4 linked regions of the Homo sapiens genome follow. The protein of the gene in region 1 interacts with the protein of each later gene in a biochemical or structural test. Each region holds a gene or a part of one and is shown in the gene's direction. Other genes may lie near its edges.

Evidence for each region. Proteins that work in one complex are often made in the same cells at the same time.
Region 2: the proteins of MAGI1 (region 1) and ATRNL1 interact in a test that uses a peptide from one of them, tested with the Homo sapiens proteins (one large-scale study listed by IntAct).
Region 3: the proteins of MAGI1 (region 1) and SLC2A7 interact in a test that uses a peptide from one of them, tested with the Homo sapiens proteins (one large-scale study listed by IntAct).
Region 4: the proteins of MAGI1 (region 1) and SLC17A1 interact in a test that uses a peptide from one of them, tested with the Homo sapiens proteins (one large-scale study listed by IntAct).

What each region holds. Positions count from the first base shown.
Region 1 is NC_000003.12:66,032,419-66,035,918, reverse strand, and holds part of MAGI1 (membrane-associated guanylate kinase, WW and PDZ domain-containing protein 1), read left to right. Parts: intron 1-3,500. UniProt on the Homo sapiens protein: Plays a role in coupling actin fibers to cell junctions in endothelial cells, via its interaction with AMOTL2 and CDH5. May regulate acid-induced ASIC3 currents by modulating its expression at the cell surface.
Region 2 is NC_000010.11:115,302,865-115,306,364, forward strand, and holds part of ATRNL1 (attractin-like protein 1 isoform 1 precursor), read left to right. Parts: intron 1-3,500. UniProt on the Homo sapiens protein: May play a role in melanocortin signaling pathways that regulate energy homeostasis.
Region 3 is NC_000001.11:9,023,624-9,027,762, reverse strand, and holds the start of SLC2A7 (solute carrier family 2, facilitated glucose transporter member 7), read left to right. Parts: upstream 1-1,339; 5' UTR 1,340-1,417; coding exon 1,418-1,468; intron 1,469-2,688; coding exon 2,689-2,787; intron 2,788-4,139. UniProt on the Homo sapiens protein: Probable sugar transporter. Even if its physiological substrate is subject to discussion, it is able to transport glucose and fructose. Does not transport galactose, 2-deoxy-d-glucose and xylose.
Region 4 is NC_000006.12:25,815,053-25,818,552, reverse strand, and holds part of SLC17A1 (sodium-dependent phosphate transport protein 1), read left to right. Parts: intron 1-3,500. UniProt on the Homo sapiens protein: Important for the resorption of phosphate by the kidney. May be involved in actively transporting phosphate into cells via Na(+) cotransport in the renal brush border membrane. Plays a role in urate transport in the kidney.

The sequences.
Region 1 (3,500 bases):
ACTAGTTGCCAAATTTCTGGGAGGCGATGTCCCAGGGCTCTCTCATCATGGAGTTTAGGAAGGCTTGGTGAGATAATCAAGTGGGTTTGGAAACAGACACCTCTGAGTTGAAAGGAAACTGTAGTGTCTCCAGGTGTTAGCTCTCTTCACCCCTTGTGCACAGATTGTTCACAGCAGGGGCGAGTGTGTGGGTATGTTTCTGTGTGTGTGTGTATATGTATGTATGGATGGATGTACGTGAATCTACTTGTAATGGGATAGAAATATGATACTGATTGGGAAACCTGAATGGCCTGGAATTCATTGCAGTCTGAAAGTGACTATTTCATGTAATAATTACACAGGCACAGTTGGATCTTCTGACGTCTTCATTACCAGTAATGATGGCCCTAGAAACCATTTCACCAGTTTTCTGCTCCCTCTTCCATGTTGAGAATATGATTTAGATTGTATGACAGAATTGCTCTTAATGTGTCTTCATTACTGTGCCTTTTAAAGTCATATCAAGCAGGCTCATACTTGGTATATGGTAAAGAAAAATACTACTTTTGTGTTGTTTGCATCCCAAGTTAGCCACTTCCAGGGACACAGATCACTCTGGATACTGTCTACATGGTGGGAGAAAATTCTGTTTTTCTACTTCATGGCAGTTCTCTGGAAAGATACATGGACCAAAACTGTCTGTGACAGGACTGGATTGTGCAGGAATCAAACTCAATGGATCTGCCAGGTTGGACTTGGTTCATTTTAAATGGAGAAGACAGTCCTTTGTCAGGTTGGAGTTGGTTCATTTTAAGTGGGGAAGACAGTACTTTGTCATAAAATGCCTTTACAAAGTTATATATAATTATGTGTATTCAGGTATCATTTACCTATAGTAAAATGCATATCTTAGATATATAATTTGATGAGTTTTAAGCGATGTATGCACTCATGTTAATCACTCAAATGAAGATAGAGAACATTTTCATCACCCCAGAAATTTTTCTCATGTTCCTGTCCAGTTAATTCCCCCCTCCCCCTGCACCATAGATCTACCATAGAATAATTTTGTCTTCAACTTCATAAAAATGAACTAATGCAGTATGTACTCTTTTGTGTTTGGCTTTTGTTACTCAACAAAATATTTTGGAGATTTCGTTTTGTTGCATGTGTACTTCATTTGGTTCTTTTTTTATTGCTAAGTAATATTCCATTGTATACACATACCAGTTTGTCCTTTTGCTTGTTTATGGACATTTGGAGTATTTACCATTTTTTACTATTACGAATAAAGCTGTTATTAATGTTTCAGTTGCTCTACATCTTTGGCCATCTTTGATTTTGTTTGTCTTTTGAATTTTAGCCGTCCTAGTATATGCTTCGGAAAAATGTAATTAAGGAAACTTTGATACAGGATATAAGATGTCGCTAGTATGTATTAAGATCTTGCCTTAGAATATAATAGGTGCTTGGCTAAGCTGATGCTTCGTGGGCATTCTCTTTTTCAGTCCTTACAATTGGACTCAGATGTTAGAAGCTGAGGTTCAGAGAATTTGGGTAACTTTTCCAAGGGTCATACCACAGTGGCAGTAGAGCTGCAACCCAGCTCTGTCTGATTCCAAAGCCTGTGCTCCCAATTCCTGGGACAGTAGGTCTCCAAGTGAGGTCCTCAGACCAGTGGCATTAGTATAGTAACCTGGGAACTGGTTAGAAATCCAGATTCCTGGGCCCCACCTTAGTTCTACCAATTCAGAAGCTTTGCGGGGGATGGGGTTGGGGTTGGGGGGTGGGGTAACAACCATGGGGTGTTTTAATAAACCCTCAAGGGATTCTGATGGGCTTATTAAGGGATTCAAGGGTTCAGTTTTAAGAACTACTGTACTAGGGTATAGACCAAAATTGAGAAGATGACATCAGATGAGACAGGTGACCTGGGTTCTAGAATAAGCTCTGCCAGTCACATTCTTGGAGCCTACATTTCTCTATGCCAAAAATAAGTGGGTGAGCCTCTTCAGGTTATTTGTGCTCGTGAAATCCTTTGTTTCCATGAATCACCCAGACTCCAAAGGTTTAAAATGGTATGATTGTAGTTTCCCAAAGTGGTGTATTACAGGTCATGCTTACATATTTTTGCAGGTGAATTTTGTGGTTTTTCAAATTACCCAGGAACTGTAACTATCCCTCTACTTTTTGTGTATGTGTGGCAGTGTGGAGATAATAAAAGAGATACAATTTAAAAGCCAAACCAAACCACCACCAGACCCTTCCCCTCACTGTAATGAGGGAAATTGTGATCACATATGGTTGAATATAGTTCTTTGTGTGGTTTTTTGTTTTGGTATTGTTTTGATTCATTGGAATGTATGACAATAACTCTCATTTTAAAACACAGGGCCTTGTCTTTCAGAGTTGTTTGGTTTCTCATGAATCTCTGGTCTTGCTTCTTTCTCCTCAGTGACCTCCTTCTGGTGTGCTGTAAAATGCTTAACAACCAGTGCTAGTAGTGGGTAGACCCTGATTTATAGCATAGCTGGAGTTGGGAAGAGACGCGTATACTTGCTGTTCCCAAGCCAATGTGAGCTGGCCCCCACACACCACTGACTGCATATAAGATAGTGCCCTTGTGGTGGCTCACCTGTAATCCCAGCACCTTGGGAGGCCAAGGTGGGTGGATCACTTGAGCTCAGGAGTTTAAGACCAGCCTGGGCAACATGGTGAAGTCTCTACCAAAAAATACATAAACTAGCTGGGCGTGGTGGCGAACTTCTGTAGTCCCAGCTACTCGGGAGGCAGAGTGGGAGAATCGCTTGAGACCAGGAGGCAGAGGTTGCAGTGAGCCAAGATTGTACCACTGCACTCCAGCCTGGGTGACAGAGTGAGACCCCCATCTCACACACACACACAAAAGATAGCTCCCTGAGTAAAGTGCCATTCCCTCACCCTGTTTGTTCCTTCATAGCCTTGACACAATCTCGTATTATCTTCTGTTGTTGTTGTTGTTGTTTTTTTTTTTTTTTTTTTTGAGATGGAGTTTCGCTCTGTTGCCCAGGCTGGAGTGCAGTGGTGCGATCTCGGCTCACTGCAACCTTTGCCTCCCGGGTTCAAGCAATTCTGATGCTTAGCCTCCCGAGTAGCTGGCATTATAGGCATGTACCACCATGCCTGGCTAATTTTTTGTATTTTAGTACAGGTGGGGTTTCGCCATGTTGCCCAGGCTGGTCTCTTGAGCTCAGGCAATCTGCCTGCCGCCTTGGCCTCCCGAAGTGCTAGGATTGTAGGCGTGAGCCACCGCAACGGGCCCTGTTTCTTCTTTATTGTCTGTTTCCCCTCCCATGAGAATAGAAGTTCCATGAAAACAAGAAGCTTGTCTCTCTTGTTCACTGCTGTATTTCTCAGTGTCTAAAAAAGACCCAGCAGGGCCAGGCGTGGTGGCTCATGCCTGTAATCCCAGCACTTTGGGAGGCCGAGGTGGGTGGATCACAAGGTCAGGAGTTCAAGACCAGCCTGGCCAAGATGGT
Region 2 (3,500 bases), on another chromosome or scaffold:
AAAAGTGCCAATCTTAGCTAGCTTCTTCATAGCAGAGAATATGGTTTATCTTTCTGCAATCCACTCTTTGACACTGACGCTCATCAAAAATATGCCTTTTCACCTGAATTAATTGGTATGTTCAGATTTGGAACAAAAAAGTAGAAAGTTTTACTTACTCCTGCTGCTCTCATGACCTGTTTCTCAATGTTGGTTGCATTCATTCATATCCCACTCATTGGTATCTGTCCCTCTTGTAATTAATCCAGACTTTATGTCCTTTTTTTTTTGAATAATATACTTTTCAGGGGCCCAGTAGTTACCATTCTACCACCATAGAAAGCTGCAGAATCACCTGAGATAAAGTTGGTATGCAGGTTTTTTTTTTTTTTTTTTTTTGAGATGGAGTCTCACTCTGTGGCCCAGGCTGGAGTGCAGTGGCCTAATTTCAGCTCACTGCAACCTCCACCTCCCTGGTTCAAGTGATTCTCTTGCCTTAGCCTCCCAAGTAGCTGGGACTACAGGCATGTGCCACCATGCCCAGCTAATTTTTGTACTTTTTTTAGAGATGGGGTTTCACTGTTGGCCAGGCTGATCTCGAACTCCTGACCTCATGATCCACCCAGCTCGGCCTCCCAAAGTTCTGGGATTACAAGCGTGAGCCACCGCGCCCGGCCGGTATCCAAGTTTATGTCCGTTGAGGATGCTTTGATTTGAACAAAGCAAAATATCAGTTATTTGGTAAAGTCCAAACAGACAAATAAAATCAGAAGTTCTTTTGCTTCTTTTTCAGTTCCCTTCTTCTCAACATCTGAGTGTCCAGGAAGCTCACAAAGAAAAAAGGAGCAAGACTCCTTGGATTTTTTTTTCTTCCAATACTTTAACCTGCAGTAAACAGGATTTGAAATGAGTGAATCTAATTAACATGTTGGTGTGTTTGATCCAGGTTCCAAAGAAACTGTAGTTACAGTTCAGTCAAAGGAGACAAAATAACAGCCACTTGGAGTCTGGTGTATCTATTAAACTCAGGAATATGTTGTGGTTGAAATGTATTCAATGAGATAGGGAAAGCAACAGTTTCCCTCTCTATACAGGAATTCTCTCCAGGGGATCTTTATCCCGATTCTAATTCCTTTCTCCTAACAGCCCTAAGTTCTCCACTATCATCATCTCTCTTCATTTGTCATATTTGAAACTTTTAAAGGTCAAAGGTCCATTTTAGGTTTTTGCATCAGTCCACTGGTTTCCCTCTGACCCTTTCTCTCCAGGAAACAGCCACTTGGAGTTTTCCTAGGAGTGTAGGCCATAACACAGCTTGTTTCTATAACGTTCATAAGTATCTTCAGGACTTTCTTATTAGATCATTGACTTTCTTGCAGTCCCTCCATAGGAGCAGCCACTGGCAGCCTGACTGATGAAAATACAAACAACTATCCCAGCAGCAATATTTATTTTCTGCCCGTCCACTCTTCCTTCCCTCCTTTGAGCTTTCTTGTTTTTCCTCTGAGAGGCAACCCATTCTAGTTAGCAATTATAGTAATGATATGGCTCCCATGAGTGGAGGAACACCAGGGCTCTTGTCTCACGTTGAATTAGATTAAACAATACGGACACACGTGGAGTGGTTTTAAGGAGCAGAGAGTTTAATAGGCAAGAAAGAAAAGAAAAGGCAGAAGGTTCGCTCTTACAGAGACAGAGGGATGGGGGCTCCACAGCCGAAAGAGGAAACCCCAAGTGTGGTGCGTACCAGGCAGGTATATGTAGAGGCTGGAGGAGGGGGTGTCTGATTTGCATAGAGCTTAGGGGATTGGTTTGACCAGGCTTTCATTCAGGTAGCCCTCGGAAAAAAACTGGCCTTCCCACCCTAGCCTTTTAATATGCAAATGCAGGGCACCATGATGTTCTACACACATGGGGATATGTGGGGCGGCCATATTCCCAAATACATGTGGGGCAAGGGCAAGAGGACAAAGGTGGGAATCGCCATGTTGAGTGGACCCAGTTTCTAATGGCTTGCATATGCATACTAAAGGTTGCCGGCTTGGCTCTAAGAGCTGGGACTTTTCTGTTAGACAAGAAACACTTTTGGAGGTGTTTTAAAAAGAAATGAAAACTTTCCAAGGACTCCTTTTTTCTCTATCTGCCTAAAATAATTTCTTAATAACTTCTATCACAGTAACTTCATAATTCTGAGATCCCTGTTGGTGGTAAATCTAGTATGTTGAAGCCTGTAAGTGTATGGCCCTTGGACAACATGGTCACCCAGTTGATACTAGTCCTTCTTGCTCAGATGAGTCATCTTCCCATTTAGAGGTAGCCACTGCATAAGGCAATGCACGTAGAGACTTACTGACTTTCTAGGCCTTTCATCACTCTCAGTGGTCCAGTCAAATATGTATTTGGTCCATAGTGGGCACCACTGTTACTTGAAGAGCTAAGGCAAAACAGTAACACAATGCAGGCTGGAATCCCAGCTGCAGCTGTTGTGTTCATTTGTTCCTTCAGGCTCTTGGCATGAAGTGGAGAGGTATGCCTGGGATGGACATGGTTGGATGTATTATGAGTTGAGCTCCCTGTTGATATCCTTTTTTAGGGATTGTGGTAAGGAATGGGGGTGTTGTACCTGATCAAGTGGGTGGCAGTGTGGTGGTTGCAGGCATAAAATGGCCTTTGTGCATAGCAAAACATTTCAAAACTAGGAGCCAGCTGCCCAGGAGAGTTGAATACAAGAGTTGAAGACTTGTGGGGAATGAGACAATGCGCACCTTCTCCTGCCTCAATAGTCATGCTTGTCTCTCGACAAACATTATTGTTCAATGAAAGAAGCTAGACATGAAAGATTACATACTGTTTGACTACATTTAGGTATAAAGTTAAAAAATAGTCAAAACGGCACTGTATTGTTTAGAAATGCGTATTTAGGTGGTAAAACTATAGAGTAAGGCAAAAGTGTATTCTCAAAAATGTCAGCTAGAGGATGTTGCTGGGGGAAGTTTAGGGGTGCTGATTAGGAAATGAAACAAGAGAGGCAATGCTCCACTTCTAGGCTTTGTGCAGGTCCAGAGTGTGTGTTTATAGGAATTTATTAATCTTATATTTTTCTTTATGTAATTGTATGTGTGTTATATTTCACAATAAAAGAGGCTAGAAAGTAGGGAAAAACTGGTTTGTGAAAGTCTAAGCTCTTATACTCTTAACAACTTTCTAAAAATTATTTAGAATTAAGCTTATGTTGTCACAAATTTTTCTTATATCCCATTCCTTCTCATTTGTTCTACTTTTTTGTTTTTTTACAATTTTTTTTGGTGGTATAACACACATAACATAAATTTTACCATTTTAACCATTGGTAAATAATCTTTAGTAATTTCTTTCAAATAAATTGTGACATAAACTTTTGAGTCTTTGCATGTCTAAAAGTGTACTTTTCATTTTCACTTGAATGATAAAATGGCTAAATGTGGTATTCCAAATAATTTTTTCCTTGGAACCTCTTTAGCACTCAGTGTTGTGGATAAGAA
Region 3 (4,139 bases), on another chromosome or scaffold:
CCTAATTTATTCAATCATTCTCTACTTTAAAAAAAAAATGCTAGTAGAAATGATTCTGAAATAAGCACCTTTGTCCAATATTTTATTGACTTATTTAACACTATTTAGTGTAATTAGAAATAATAACTGTGTTTTTCTGAAAGTGTTTAATTTGTTCTTTCCCCCAAATGGACAATTAGTCCAAATGCACAAGAGGAGGCATATATGAAGAACCTAGGAACACACAGAAAGGAACAGCAAACACTGGGATCTACTTCCGGCTGGAGGGTGGGAGGAGGGAGAGGAGCAGCAAACAAACACTGGGAAGTGGGCTTAATACCTGGGTGATGAAATAATCTGTACAACAAACCCCCGTGGCACGAGTTTACCTATGTAACAAACCTTCACATATACCCTGAACCTAAAATAAAAGTTAAAAAAAAAAAAAAAGCCAGGTGCGGTGGCTCATGCCTGTAAGCCCAGCACTTTGGGAGGCCAAGGCAGGCGGATCACTAGAGGTCAGGAGTTCTAGACCAGCCTGGCCAACATGGTGAAACCTCATCTCTACTAAAAACACACAAAAAAAGGCTGGGTACGGTGGCTCACGCCTGTAATCCCAGCACTTTGGGAGGCCGAGGCGGGCAGATCATGAAGTCAGGAGATCCAGGCCATCCTGGCTAACACGGTGAAACCCCGTCTCTACTAAAAATACAAAAAAAAAATTAGCCAGGCATGGTGGCAGGCACCTGTGGTCCCAGCTACTCAGGAGGCTGAGACAGGAGAATGGCGTGAACCCGGGAGGCAGAGCTTGCAGTGAGCTGAGATTGCGCCACCGCACTCCAGCCTGGGCGACAAAGCGAGACTCCACCTCAAAAAAAAAAAAAAAAAAAAAAAAAAGCTGGGTGTGGCGGCACGTGCCTATAATCCCGGCTACTTGGGAAGCTAAGGCAGGAGAATAGCTTGAGCCCAGGAAGCCGAGGTTGCAGTGAGCTGAGATTGCGCCACTGCACTCCAGCCTGGGCAACAAAGGAAGACCCTGTCTCAAAAAAAAAAGAGGCATACATGGAAAAATGACACAGAAAAAGCATCCTAGATCCAGGTCACAGCCTCACTGGGTCTCTGAAAGTCCTCATTTCTGCGGACCAATGTCAGGCAATGTTTTTTCTCTCTCCTTGGTGCAACTAGGGAGCTTTCGGCTTGGGGCTTGGTGGGTGCAAAGACGAAATTCGTGCTGTGTATGATTTGTGCACTGGCAACGTGTGTCTTATCAACATTTCCAAGGAGAATTTGCTCCTGGGGAAAGTCAGCAGGGTCCAGAGAGCAAAAGGATCATAAAGCCAGGTAGGCCCAGGGGAGAAACAGCCGGTCTTTAGGTGGCTGGCGCAGAGCAGGTGTCACTTGGGAGGTAGAGCACACCTGTTCTCCCACCTGAACAAGGATGGAGAACAAAGAGGCGGGAACCCCTCCACCCATTCCATCCAGGGAGGGGGTAAGTGCCAAGACTAGGAACCTGTCACTGTCCCTCTCCCACCAGCTGTGCAGACCTGTGGAGGGAGGTGAAGGCCGTGGAATGCTTTTAGCAAGGAGCGGGTAGCGTGCTTCCTTTTTCTTCAGGATAACCAGGCCTGGGAGAGCCATGTGGAGAAGCAGCTATGCTCAAACCTCATGGCTCAGACATGGGCCAGGGTGGCTGAGCGAATGCTGGGAGAGCGGATGGTGCTGGAGATGCCTCTCTCCCTTCCACCCCTGCTCCCCTCCGCTTCCCCTACCCTTAAAGATCGAGGGGAGATGGCCTCTGAAGAATGCCCGAATCCTGCCCTTCTGTCTGGTTGTTCCTGGATGTGCAGAGCTACGGGCTGTGGGCAGCCAGGCAGCTAAGTGTGAGGGTTGGGGTGAGGACATGTGGAACAGGAGTGAGGGGTGGAGGGGGCAGTGGGGAGGGGGCATGCACCAGGGCCTTGGCTCTAGGACATGGTCAGAGACCCTGCCCACCTGCTCCTCAGACTTTGGCCCTCAGGCCAGTTCCCCTCCAAGCTGCCCTGGGTGTTGTGGCAACCATGGAAAGCCTGGCCCTGAGCACAGGCGACTGCCGGGATTTTCCTAAGGGCCTGTTCTAGAGGCAGAGGCAAGCAATGAGTCCCTCTGTCTGGGATGCTCTTCCCCCCGATGCTTACACAGCTGCTCCCTCTCATCCATTCTGGTCCCGGCTCAAAGGGCGCCTGCTCAGAGAGGCCTTCCCTGCCCTGCCCACCCTACTGAACACAGTCTCTCATTCCTCACAGGCTGCTACCCCACCCATCACCCTATTTTATTGTCCTCACAGCATTCTAGCTATTTGGAATTATCATCTTTGTCTTTCTTGGACGGGGTGGGCTCCCCTCACTAGAAAGTGAGCTTCTTAAAGGCAGTGCTTTGCTGGGCCTTTTTCCTAAAGCATCCCCTACTTCACACTTGGCCTCCAGGGCCTAGTACAGGGCCAGGCACGTAGCAGATGCTCAGATACATCCTCAAGGAGGGAATGAATGCGTGCAGAGACCTCAGCCCCCAAAAGCCCCAGCCCTGCGCCACCTCCTCCTCTTTTCCGGGGGCACGGCCTGGGATCCCCCATCCCCCACTTCCAGCCCAGGCTGGAGGGAGGTGGAGGCCCAGCCACTCCACTTCCCGAGGCCCAAGCCCACAGCGTCCCGACCTTGGACTTGTCTCCTACAGCGGCTCCAGCCGACGCTGTTGCTGGCGACACTGAGCGCGGCCTTTGGCTCAGCCTTCCAGTACGGCTACAACCTCTCTGTGGTCAACACGCCGCACAAGGTGGGCACAAGGTGGGCACAAGGTGGGCCGGGCAGCAGCTGACCGGGGTCGTGGGTGGAAGGTAGCCGCCATCTTCCTCCGTGGAGGCTGCCATCTTGCCTGTAGGAGGCACCATCTTGCCTTTGGGAGCAGCCAGCTTGCCCTAGTACCCTGGATGCTCACCCCTGGAGACCAGGGCGTGGCAGGAGGTGTTTCCCCCTGGAGTGTCGTCCTTTCCGGGCACATTGGGATGCTGGGGGACCTGTTCCATTTTCCAGCCCAGTCTTTTTGGGCCTCAGGTCCCACTGCTCTCACCTTGGGTAGGCCCCTTGTTGATTGGAAAGAGAATGGGGTCAAAGATTGAACTCTGTGGCATTTAGGGATTGGGGCAAAGGGGAAAAAAGGAAAAAGAGAAGGGGCCCTTGCAGGTGTGGAAGACCCTGAGGGCAGAATGTCCCCAAAACCTAGTAAAGGATGAGAGTCAAGGAGGGAGGGACAGCCTGTGCTGATGAGCTCAGATGAGGACTGAGAACTGACTACAGGCTTGACCTTGGTATACGTCTATGCTTACGCTTGTATACATATATTAGCATGTCTACAGACACTGTATTACATTTGTTTGTGTATTACGTATATATACATATATTAGTGTACTTACAATTATTACCATGGATGGAACCTCCGAGTCAAGCAATGTACCATCACTTAATCACATTTAATGCTAACACATTCTTTATAAGGTACATCTTGTTTCCATAACTGATGAGGAAATTAAGGTTTCTGGAGGTTCTGTAACTTGCCTGAAGTCACACAATTAGTAAAAATATTTCCTGGGCTGGGAGCGGTGGCTCACGCCTGCAATCCCAGCACTTTGGGAGGCTGAGGTGGGTGGATCACCTGATCACCTGAAATCAGGAGTTCAAGACCAGCCTGGCCAACATGGTGAAACCTCATCTCTACTAAAAATCCAAAAATTAGCCAGGCATGGTGGCGGGTATCTGTAATTCCAGCTACTCGGGAGGCTGAGACAGGAGAATCACTTGAACCCGGGAATCAGAGGTTGCAGTGAGCCAAGATCATGCCACTGCACTCCAGCCTGGGTGACAGAGTGAGACTTCATCTCAAAAAAAAAAAAAAAAAAAAAAAAAAAAAAAAAAAGAAGAAGAATATTTCCTATGGTGCCTCTGGCAGAGTAAGTCGTAAGTCTCTCAAAAGTAAAATTTTTTTTTTCTTTTCTTTTCTCTTCTTTTTTAATAGAGACAGGGTCTCCCTATGTTGGCCAGGTTGCTCTTGAACCCTTGGCCTCAAGCAATCCTCCCGCCTCGGCCTCCCAAAGTGCCAGGATTACAGGTGTGAGCCATTCCCAGCCAAAA
Region 4 (3,500 bases), on another chromosome or scaffold:
TAGGTTCTATTATGTCCATTTGATACGTGAGGAAACTTCAAAAGGCTTAGGTAACTTGATCAAAGTCATATACTTAAGGCAAAATTGGAAGAATTTATTTACAAAGTGATCACTTAAAAAGGTAGGTATGAGATCCGGTGAAATTCTAGGAATAGTCCAGTTACCTGGGGCTAGCGATACAGGAGCTCGGAATATCTAGCATCCCCAGGTCCAAAGGCATCAAGCAAGGAAGTAGTTATCAGAATCCATTAGGAGAGCCCTATAGAGCAGGATGCCTTCAAAGAACTCATGATTTTTCATAAAAGGACACATAGATTGAGGCAATCATAAGACAGAGCTAACCAGGGTTTGAAAAGACACCTTGATCTCACTCAATTCTCTCCCTCTCATCTCTGCCGGGAATTTCTGTTGGCCAAATCCAGGTGGAAGCAGAGGACATGGGGGCCTACTGATGTTCATTCACATCAGCCATCTGTAGCCAAAGTAAGGTGAAGAAGGATGAGGAGTACATCTAGGGGGACAAACAGAAGACATCCAATATATACAGTGAGCAGATGGCAGAGGCATAATCTGAAAACATGTCTTCCATCCTCAAAATTCCATTGCTGTTAATGACTGTGTTAGTTAGTCTTCAGTAGTAGACAATGGTCAGCATAGTGATGGAACGTAAGCCCCTTATCAGGAAAGGGGCTGAAAAAACTGAGAATGTCTAGCCTGAAGAAGAGAAAACTTGAGAGAACATACCTTGTAGGACTTTATATAAATAAAATGCAGACCTGTTTTGAATTACAAAACTAACCCAAATATACAGAAATTACGGCGGAGCAGGGGAGCAGGGGTGAGGTTTCAGCTCCATATAAGGAAAACTTTTGAATAACTAATGCTGCCCAACATTGTTGATCAAGGGTTGAATGACATCTAATATTTATGTTGTATTTCTATGATAAGATCATGTACAGCAATGTATGCCACTTACAGTTATCATGGGTGGTTTCATGAAACTCAAACGAAGGTGTTACACAACTACACATTGTACTATGATAATAGCTTTACTGTGAAGTCCCTCACATGTTTTTTCCTTATCACTAAGAATTGAGGAAAAGGGATTAGATGACAGCTGTTTAGGAATTTAGGTATCTGCCTCCCACAACCTTTTTACTATAAATTACATGATGTCCACGTATGTCAAACGACCTGTTCGTTAGTGGCAGAGGGAAAACTAAAACCAAGATTGTTTTAAAATTCCATTGGAATATTCTTGCCAATAAAGTTGAACAAATCTGAATAGATACTGTTTTAAAGAATACGACAATAACTGTATTTAAGCAGCTGATAATTGCTGGAGATTACCAAGTAGAGTAAATTGAGTCACAGACTTACATTTGCACTTAAAATGGCCTGGCCAGCTGGGCACAGTGGCTCACGCCTGTAATCCCAGCACTTTGGGTTGCTGAGGTGGGTGGATAACCTAAAGTCAGGAGTTCGGGACCAGCCTGGCCAACATGGTGAAACCCCATCTCTACTAAAAATACAAAAAATTAGCTGGGCGTGGTGGCAGGCACCTATAATCCCAGCTACTCGGAAGGCTGAGGCAGGAGAATCACTTGAATCCGGGAGGCAGAGTTTGCAGTGAGCCAAGATCGTGCCATTGCACTCCAGCCTAGGCAACAAGAGTGAAACTCCGTCTCAAAAAAAAAAAAAAAATGGCCTGGCCATCCTGCTATATTTGTCTCCTAAAGACTATTTCAAACTTCTTAACTCTTCTCAAATCTCTAAAATGATTCCCTTTCCCTGTCTTCTGTCTCAAGTAACCTCCCTTTGACCATTGAAATCATTGCATAATCTGTCTGTACCCATTGCCTACATTTCCTAGCATCTCACGCTCTCCTTAACTCACATCTGACTAGTGTATGTGGCATCAAACACAGCTATTGCCAAGATCACTTATGGCTTCTGTCACCGCTGCCCTGAGGCCCAGGCCAGAGGGCGCTTGCCCTAGATTCCACACTGTGGATAGCCCATTCTAGCCCCTCTCTAGCTAGGCTGTCTTCATAGGGCAGGTGCCAAGACAGTAGGCTCAGTAGAGCCCATGGCTCTGCTTCTAATCATCATGCCTGGAATGTCTTGCTTAAATAGAACCAAGGCTATTGGTTATATTGGAAAAGACCAGCAGGGCTCTTCCCAACATCCATTCAACTGGGGAGTGACCAAGGGAGGTAGGAGGCACTATTTGCATAAGATATGAATGGTGCACAATGGGGAAGCCAAGAGTTTCCACATATATCCATTCAAAGTACCTAGTGAGGTGGGAATGGGTCTGGGTAGGAATAGGTCAAGCTTCAGTCTAGTCGCCAGAGATTTGTGTTCAGAATTCTAAATTTAAACAGGACTCTTCAGGTCATTTTTTTCCCTTTGGCTTCTTTCAAAATTGTCTTTGATTTACTGAAGTTGAATATTATATTGTAACCGAAAATCAAGTTAGTTGCTTACCACATGTAGAGTCCAATTAACAAGAGTGGGGTCTGGTACAAGAAAAGTGGATTTATTCCAAAGCTAGCTTGGGGAAGGGACACAAAATTTCTTGCTTTTAACTGTGCCGTTTCACCTTTGGAGCTGAAGTGGCAAAAAAAAAAAAAAAAAAGTAAGCATTTTCATATGGTAGGGGAGGAAATGAGCAAGGGCAGGGGTCCCCTTGCTACCGGGCAGTTATCTACTGCACAGTTGAGGTAGCACTTACATGGACAGAAGTAGATTGAAAAAGTGACCAAAAAGGGCATGTTTTCAATATGCTCTCCAGGTGGAAGAAAGTTCCAAGACCACTCCTGGAGAGTGGAAGTTCCGAGGCCACGCCCTAGAGATGAAAGTTCCCTGGCAATTTGGTCTGCAAATTGACTGTCAGCTCTGGAGGAGAGCTGTGTCTTGAAGCACGTAGTTAGGAGAATTTTTCCTATAGCGAATGTCTGGTGAGGGGAGGAGGTGAAACGTTGTATTTGCATTTCTGAAGGGCTAAGTTGGAAATGAGGAGCAAGAGGAAAAGGGGAAAGGGGAAAAGAAGAGAAAGCTTTAAAAAATAGTAATTCGTCTCAGAAAACAAAAAATAGTACTTCATTCCCGTTTTCTTAAAAAACTGGGGTCATTTGGTTACAACATGTCAGGTTGTAACTTTTTTTTTTATTTATTCTTGGCATTCTCTGGGCTTCCTATATCTGTGGTTTGAGGTTTATTATTAATTTTAAGAAATTCTCAGTAATTATTGCTTTAAATATTTTTTCTAATTTTTTTCTTTCCCCTCCCTCCCTCCCTTCATTCCTCCCTCCCTTGCTACCTCCCTCCCTTCCTTGCTTTTTCTTTCTTCCTTTCTTTCTCTTTTTTCTTTTTTTTCTCTTTCTCTCTTTCTCTATTTCTTTCTTTCTTCCTTCCAGTATGTTTCTTTACATGTATATCACACCTTGTGATTTTTTTTATTACATGTATATTACAGCTTTTATAATTGTCCTACA